Homo sapiens: one gene and its partner. The protein of the gene in region 1 purifies or fractionates together with the protein of each later gene. This does not show direct contact. Each region holds a gene or a part of one and is shown in the gene's direction. Other genes may lie near its edges.

Region 1 (3,500 bases):
GAGGCAGGCACGAGCTTGACAAGTTTCAGGAATAGTCAGCAGGCCAGTGTGGCTGGAGACCTGGGAACCAGAGGGTAGGAGAGGAGTTCAAAGTCTAGGGCACATCATGAAAGGCTGTGAGCCATAGGAAACACTTTGGCTTTTATTCTACATGTGATGGGAAGTTATTGGAGGCTTTGAGCTTAGAGTAGCATGATTAGATTTGCCTTTTTAAAGGTCACTCTGTTGTGTGAAGGCTACAGTGCAGGAGAGTGGAAGCCTGGAGACCAACCAGGGGACTATTGCTGGTCTATGTATGGGCAAGAGATGACTTCTGGCTTGGACAAGCATGGTGGCAGTGAAATGGTGAGAATGGTTGTGAGAACACGTTTTACATGTAGAAACAAGAGGATTTCTTCAGTTGGATTTGTTAATGGATTGGGAGACAGAAGGGGGAGGTGCAGGAAAATACCAGGATTTTTTTTATCTGAGCTGGTTAAATGAAATTTGTATTTAGTGAGAGATTCTGTGGCTAGTCTTGGCTATTTCCTAGGTGATTCTCTGGGTTTTCTGTACAGAATCTAAACCTTTGGTTTCTTAGAGAGTCTTTTGGGTTCTCTGTGAAAAGTTATTCCTTCAGCCTGCTATTTTTTTTTTTTTGAGACGGAGTTTCGCTCTTGTTGCCCAGGCTGGAATGCAATGGTACTATCTCGGCTCACCGCAACCTCTGCCTCCTGGGTTCAAGAGATTCTCCTGCCTCAGTCTCCCAGGTAGCTGGGATTACAGGCATGTGCCACCATGCCTGGCTAATTTTGTACTTTTAGTAGAGACAAGCTTTCTCCATGTTGGTCAGGCTGGTCTTGAACTCCCAACCTCAGGCCATCCACCTGCCTCGGCCTTCCAAAGTGCTGGAATTACAGGCATGAGCCACCGTGCCTGGCCCTCAGCCTGCTATTATGCCACACAGTGTAATAGGCATTAGGAATAAAAAAAGAAATTGAGAGTGAGACTATAGTTCCTATTTTGTGGGAGGCCACTTTAGTGAGGCAGAAAACTAAATAATTTCCATATGTTATGTTAAGTGCATACATAAAGGGACCCTTGTTAGGAATGTTCTCAGCTTTTCTGTGGAATTTCTCACTGGTGTAAGTTTTGAAGCAACTGCTTCTTTTTTTTTTTTTTTTTTTTTTTTAGATAGTCTCTGTATGCCAACATTAAAATATATAGATAAGTAAGAAGAAGGTTGGAAACATCACTCCCAGAGATAACCACTATTTTTTTTGACAGCTGTTCATGTGACTAATGCCCCCAACAGTTTTATATATTTATTTATTTTTATTTTTTATTTTTTCCCTTTTTTTGTTATACTTTAAGTTCTAGGGTACATGTGCACAACGTGCAGGTTTGTTACATATGTATACATGTGCCATGTTGGTGTGCTGCACCCGTTGACCCGTTAACCTCATTTACATTAGGTATATCTCCTAATGCTATCCCTCCCCCAGCCCCCAACCTCATGACAGGTCCCAGTGTGTGATGTTCCCCATCCTGTGCCCAAGTGTTCTCATTGTTCAATTCCCACTATGAATGAGAGCATGTGGTGTTTGGTTTTCTGTCCTTGTGATAGTTTGCTCAGAATGATGGTTTGCAGCTTCATCCATGTCCCTACAAAGGACATGAACTCATCCTTTTTTATGGCTGCAAGGTATTCCATGGTGTATATGTGCCACATTTTCTTAATCCAGTCTATCATTGTTGGACATTTGGGTTGGTTACAAGTCTTTGCTATTGTGAATAGTGCTGCAGTAAACATACATGTGCATGTGTCTTTATAGTAGCATGATTTATAATACTTTGGGTATATACCCAGTGATGGGATGGCTGGGTCAAATGGTATTTCTAGTTCTAAATCCTTGAGGAATTGCCACACTGTCTTCCACAATGGTTGAAATAGTTTATAGTCCCACCAACAGTGTAAAAGTGTTCCTATTTCTCCACATCCTCTCCAGCACCTGTTGTTTACTGACTTTTTAATGATCACCATTCTAACTGGTGTGAGATGGTATCTCATTGTGGTTTTGATTTGCATTTCTCTGATGGCCAGTGATGATGAGCATTTTTTCATGTGTCTTTTGGCTGCATAAATGTCTTCTTTTGAGAAGTGTCTGTTCATATCCTTTGCCCACTTTTTGATGGGGTTGTTTGATTTTTTCTTGTAAATTTGTTGAAGTTCTTTGTAGATTGTGGATTAATTAGCCCTTTGTCAGATGGATAGATTGTAAAAATTTTCTCCTATTCTGTAGGTTGCCTGTTCACTCTGATGGTAGTTTCTTTTGCTGTGCAGAAGCTCTCTAGTTTAATTAGATCCCATTTGTCAAGTTTGGCTTTTGTTGCCATTGCTTTTGGTGTTTTAGTCATGAAGTCCTTGCCCATGCCTATGTCCTGAATGGTATTGCCTAGGTTTTCTTCTAGGGTTTTTATGGTTTTAGGTCTAACATTTAAGTCTTTAATCCATCTTGAATTAATTTTTGTATAAGGTATAAGGAAGGAATCCAGTTTCAGCTTTCTACATTTGGCTAGCCAGTTTTCCCAGCACCATTTATTAAATAGGGAATCCTTTCCCTATTTCTTGTTTTTGTCAGCTTTGTCAAAGATCAGATGGTTGTAGATGTGTGGTATTATTTCTGAGGGCTCTGTTCTGTTCCATTGGTCTATATCTCTATTTTGGTACCAGTACCATGCTGTTTTGGTTACTGTAGCCTTGTAGTATAGTTTGAAGTCAGGTAACGTGATGCCTCCAGCTTTGTTCTTTTGGCTTAGGAGTGTCTTGGCAATGTGGGCTTTTTTTGGGTTCCATATGAACTTTAAAGTAGTTTTTTCCAATTCTGTGAAGAAAGTCATTGGTAGCTTGATGGGGATGGCGTTGAATCTATAAATCACCTTGGGCAGTATGGCCATTTTCATGATATTAATTCTTCCTATCCATGAGCATGGAATGTTCTTGCATTTGTTTGTGTTCTCTTTTATTTCATTGAGCAGGATAACCACTATTAAAGTAAAAATTCAGTGCATCCATTCTAATTTTTTTAATGCATACACTTTTATAAGTATTAAATATACAGCTTAACAACTCTTGGGCAGGCACAGTGGCTCACGCCTGTAATTCCAGCACTTTGGGAGGCCAAGGCGGCAGATCACGAGGTCGGGAGATCGAGACCATCCTGGCTAATACGGTGAAACCCCGTCTCTACTAAAAATACAAAAAATTAGTCCGGCGTGGTGGCCAGCACCTGTAGTCCCAGCTACTCGGGAGGCTGAGGCAGAAGAATGGCATGAACCCGGGAGGTGGAGCTTGCAATGAGCCAAGATCACGCCACTGCACTCCAGCCTGGGTGACAGAGCAAGACTACATCTCAAAAAAAAAAATAAATAAATAAAATAAAATAAATAACAACTCTTTCACATTTAATGTATTGTGATGCTCTTACCTGCATTAAACAGGTTTCTATAAACCATGTTTA
Region 2 (3,500 bases), on another chromosome or scaffold:
ACTGTGTATCCCTGTAAGATTATCTTTAGGATAATTTCCCCACAGTGGAATTGCCAAATCAAATTATATATATATATTTGTAATTTTGATAGATATTGCCACATTTGCCTCCATAGAGGTTGTATCAATACACATACCCGCCAGCAATAATTCCTCACAGGCTTACTAATGGCATGTGTCATCAAACTTTAGGAGTTTTCCATTCTGTTAGATAGTATAGCAGTGCAGTTTTAATATGTATTTCTCTTATTTTGAGTGAGGTTAAGGGTCTTTTTATATATTTCACTGTCTGGTCATTTTTTTTAGGGCTAAGTCTTAAAACAAGTATTTTCTTCATAAATAGAACTGCTAGTACAGTGCCATACTTAGAATTCAGTGAAAACTTGGTTGAACCAGATTTAGCAGTTCTTCACTTTCTGGCATAACAATATGTTCCAGGATCAACTTGTACCTACCTTGCCCCAGCTCTGGAATGAGCCATTTCTCTGAGGAGCACTGGTTTTTCTTAAGGGGCAACTATATTTTAGATCAAGAGCTGGCACTAGGTACGCTCCTTGCTACTGGAGTGTATTTTCTTGGCACCTTAATTGCATGGAGCTAGGAAATATGCATGTCTATACACATAGACACATATATAAACACATACATATTCATATACATGTGAAACATGCATATACATGTTAAATGTACATATTTTAGAAATGCTGAGTTCACACAGATAGTGCTAATTCCCATTCATCTCTAGCAATTTCTTTCTTGCCTTTCACCCTTCCATATTTGTATATTCCTTCTTCCTAAATGAGAGCTGATTTCCAACAACTTCAACAATGTACCCATTTTGCTCAATTCTAGAAGGGCTCGTATTGCGTTGTTTCTGGTGAGCTGTCTTGTATGTATATCCACTGTGTATCCATTACATGTGTCCACTATGTAATACAACTGAAACAATCCAGCATCACTTCACCCATTTCACTATAGTAAATTGTAACTTGTTTTTTAAACGTTAAAAAAATTGATATTTCCTTAAAAATACTTCATAATTAAAAGGAAATTTACCTAAATTAGATTTTTATTGTTTCATAAGTGATCCATTGGAGCAATATACAAGGAATTCTTTCATGTAAGCTTTAGAGCAATTATTTTTAGAAATTCTACTTAAACCTTTGATAAGGATACTATATTAGAGATTTATTAAAAGCAGGATATTTAGTAGTTTTAAGATAATTAAAAAGGGTTTGTTATTGTGCTGATAGTCAACTAGTTATTTAAGATATAACATTAAAATATGCATAAGGCCAGGCATGGTGGCTCATGCCTGTAACCCCAGCACTTTGAGAGGCTGAGTTGGGAGGATCACTTGAGGCCAGAAATTCAAGACCAGCCTGGGCAATATAGTGAGACCCTGTCTCTACCAAAAATTAAAAAAAAAGAAATTAGCCAGGCGTAGTGGTGCACACCTGTTGTCCTAGCTACTTAGGAAGCTGAGGTGGGAGGATTGCTTGAGCCCAGGAGGTCAAGGATGCAGTGATCCATGATTGCACCATTGCTCTCCAGCTTGGGTGACAGAGCAGGACCATGTCTCAAAAAAAAAATGAGAGAGAATTTTTAAAAATATACATGTTAAATTGCATTCCACTCTAGGTTCAAGGACACTACCTTTAACTAGAATAACATACGCAGTATTCATAAAGTAAATATAAGCCTTTATTCTAAAACTTTGGATTTCCTTATAAAATCCTATAGGAATAAATATGAAATCTTTTTCTTGTGTATAATTATTATGTTTCTAGCTTCTAGAAATTGATCATTTACAGTTTTCTTATTTTCTTTCAGATATAGGCATGGACCACCAAGCTCTTCTAAAACAATTTGATCACCTAAACCACCTGAATCCTGACAAGTTTGAATCCACAGATTTAGATATGCTAATCAAAGCGGTGAGAATAATTCCAAAAAGTTTTGTCTTTATTGTGCCTTTGAGGTTTTGTAATTTGACAAGTAAACCCAATGAAATGGAAATATAACTTTTATATATTCTGTAGAAGTTCTTTAAAGGAAGGTAGCTTAACCCTTATTAATACAGATATTAATATGTACATACAGGTCTAAAATCCCTTATCCACAATTCCTAAATCCAAAAGCTGTAAAAACTGAAACCTGGCCTGAATGAACCAATTATAGTAAAACCATTTACAGTTTTTATTTAACCTACTTAGTGTGAATATTTATAGATTTTGCTTAAGAAATACTAGTCTGTTTGATTACAGATGCTACAGGGATATTCCATAATATGGCATATGTACCATATTCCCTTTCTTTAAGGTAGAAAATTCTGAGCACATCTGGCCTCAGAGATTCCAGATAAGAGTTTGTGGACCTCTCACATTATGTGTGAATGGAACTAGTTCTAACCTGGCAGGTATTAGATTAGTTAAATGGTTAGAAGCCATTTTAGTTTTCTGTACTGTCTAGATTTGATAATAGTTCCTTTCTTCTTCTTTTTTTTTTTTAAATCAACTTACATATTACTTGCTTATGAGGAGTTTCCTAAAGTTGGGGCTAGCTTTGAACTTTTAGTTTCTTTGAATACTCTCTGGTAATAATGATGACTAAAATTGCTGGGCATGGTGGCTCATGCCTGTAATCCCAGCACTTTGGGAGGCCAAGGAGGGTGGATCACCCAAGGTCAGCAGTTCAAGACCAGCCTGGCCAACATGGTGAAACCCTGTCTGTACTTAAAATACAAATATTAGCCGGGAGTGGTGGTGAGCGCCTGTAATCCCAGCTACTCGAGAGGCCTCAGGAGGCTGAGGTGGGATAATCGCTTGAACCAAGAGGTGGAGGTGGCAGTGAGCCGAAATCGTGCCACTGCACTCCAGCCTGGGTGACGGGTGAAACTCCGTCTCAAAAAAAAAGAAGAAAAAACTTGACTAAAATGAAATGGTAGAATTTAAAAAGAGGAGTCCAGTATGTTTTTGCCCTCCCGTACCACTTCTGTTCAAGAGTATGCTATATTCAAGAATGGCTTTATTTACATTTTTCAAGTGAATGTTTTTATTTAACTTAAATGCATTATTGCATTTCAGGCAACAAGTGATCTGGAACACTATGACAAGACTCGTCATGAAGAATTTAAAAAATATGAAATGATGAAGGAACATGAAAGGAGAGAATATTTAAAAACATTGAATGAAGAAAAGAGAAAAGAAGAAGAGTCTAAATTTGAAGAAATGAAGAAAAAGCATGAAAATCACCCTAAAGTTAATCACCCAGTAAGGATTGTGACTTTATGAAACCATTTTTAGATAAAGATACTTCTTCGTATCAGCGGATTTTTATTGTGTTATTAGTACTTAAATCTTGATTCTTCTGCCAAGTTCCTCAAATTTATATTTTGAGTCTGTACAGATAGATTATATTTTGTTTTGAGCAATTTTTTAAAATTGGTTCACAGGGAAGCAAAGATCAACTAAAAGAGGTATGGGAAGAGACTGATGGAT

Evidence for each region. The genes of interacting proteins can lie anywhere in the genome.
Region 2: the proteins of MANBA (region 1) and NUCB2 fractionate together in Homo sapiens (co-fractionation; one large-scale study listed by BioGRID). This does not show direct contact.

What each region holds. Positions count from the first base shown.
Region 1 is NC_000004.12:102,754,469-102,757,968, reverse strand, and holds part of MANBA (beta-mannosidase precursor), read left to right. Parts: intron 1-3,500.
Region 2 is NC_000011.10:17,307,739-17,311,238, forward strand, and holds part of NUCB2 (nucleobindin-2 isoform 1 preproprotein), read left to right. Parts: intron 1-1,833; coding exon 1,834-1,937; intron 1,938-3,086; coding exon 3,087-3,272; intron 3,273-3,454; coding exon 3,455-3,500. UniProt on the Homo sapiens protein: Calcium-binding protein which may have a role in calcium homeostasis. Acts as a non-receptor guanine nucleotide exchange factor which binds to and activates guanine nucleotide-binding protein (G-protein) alpha subunit GNAI3.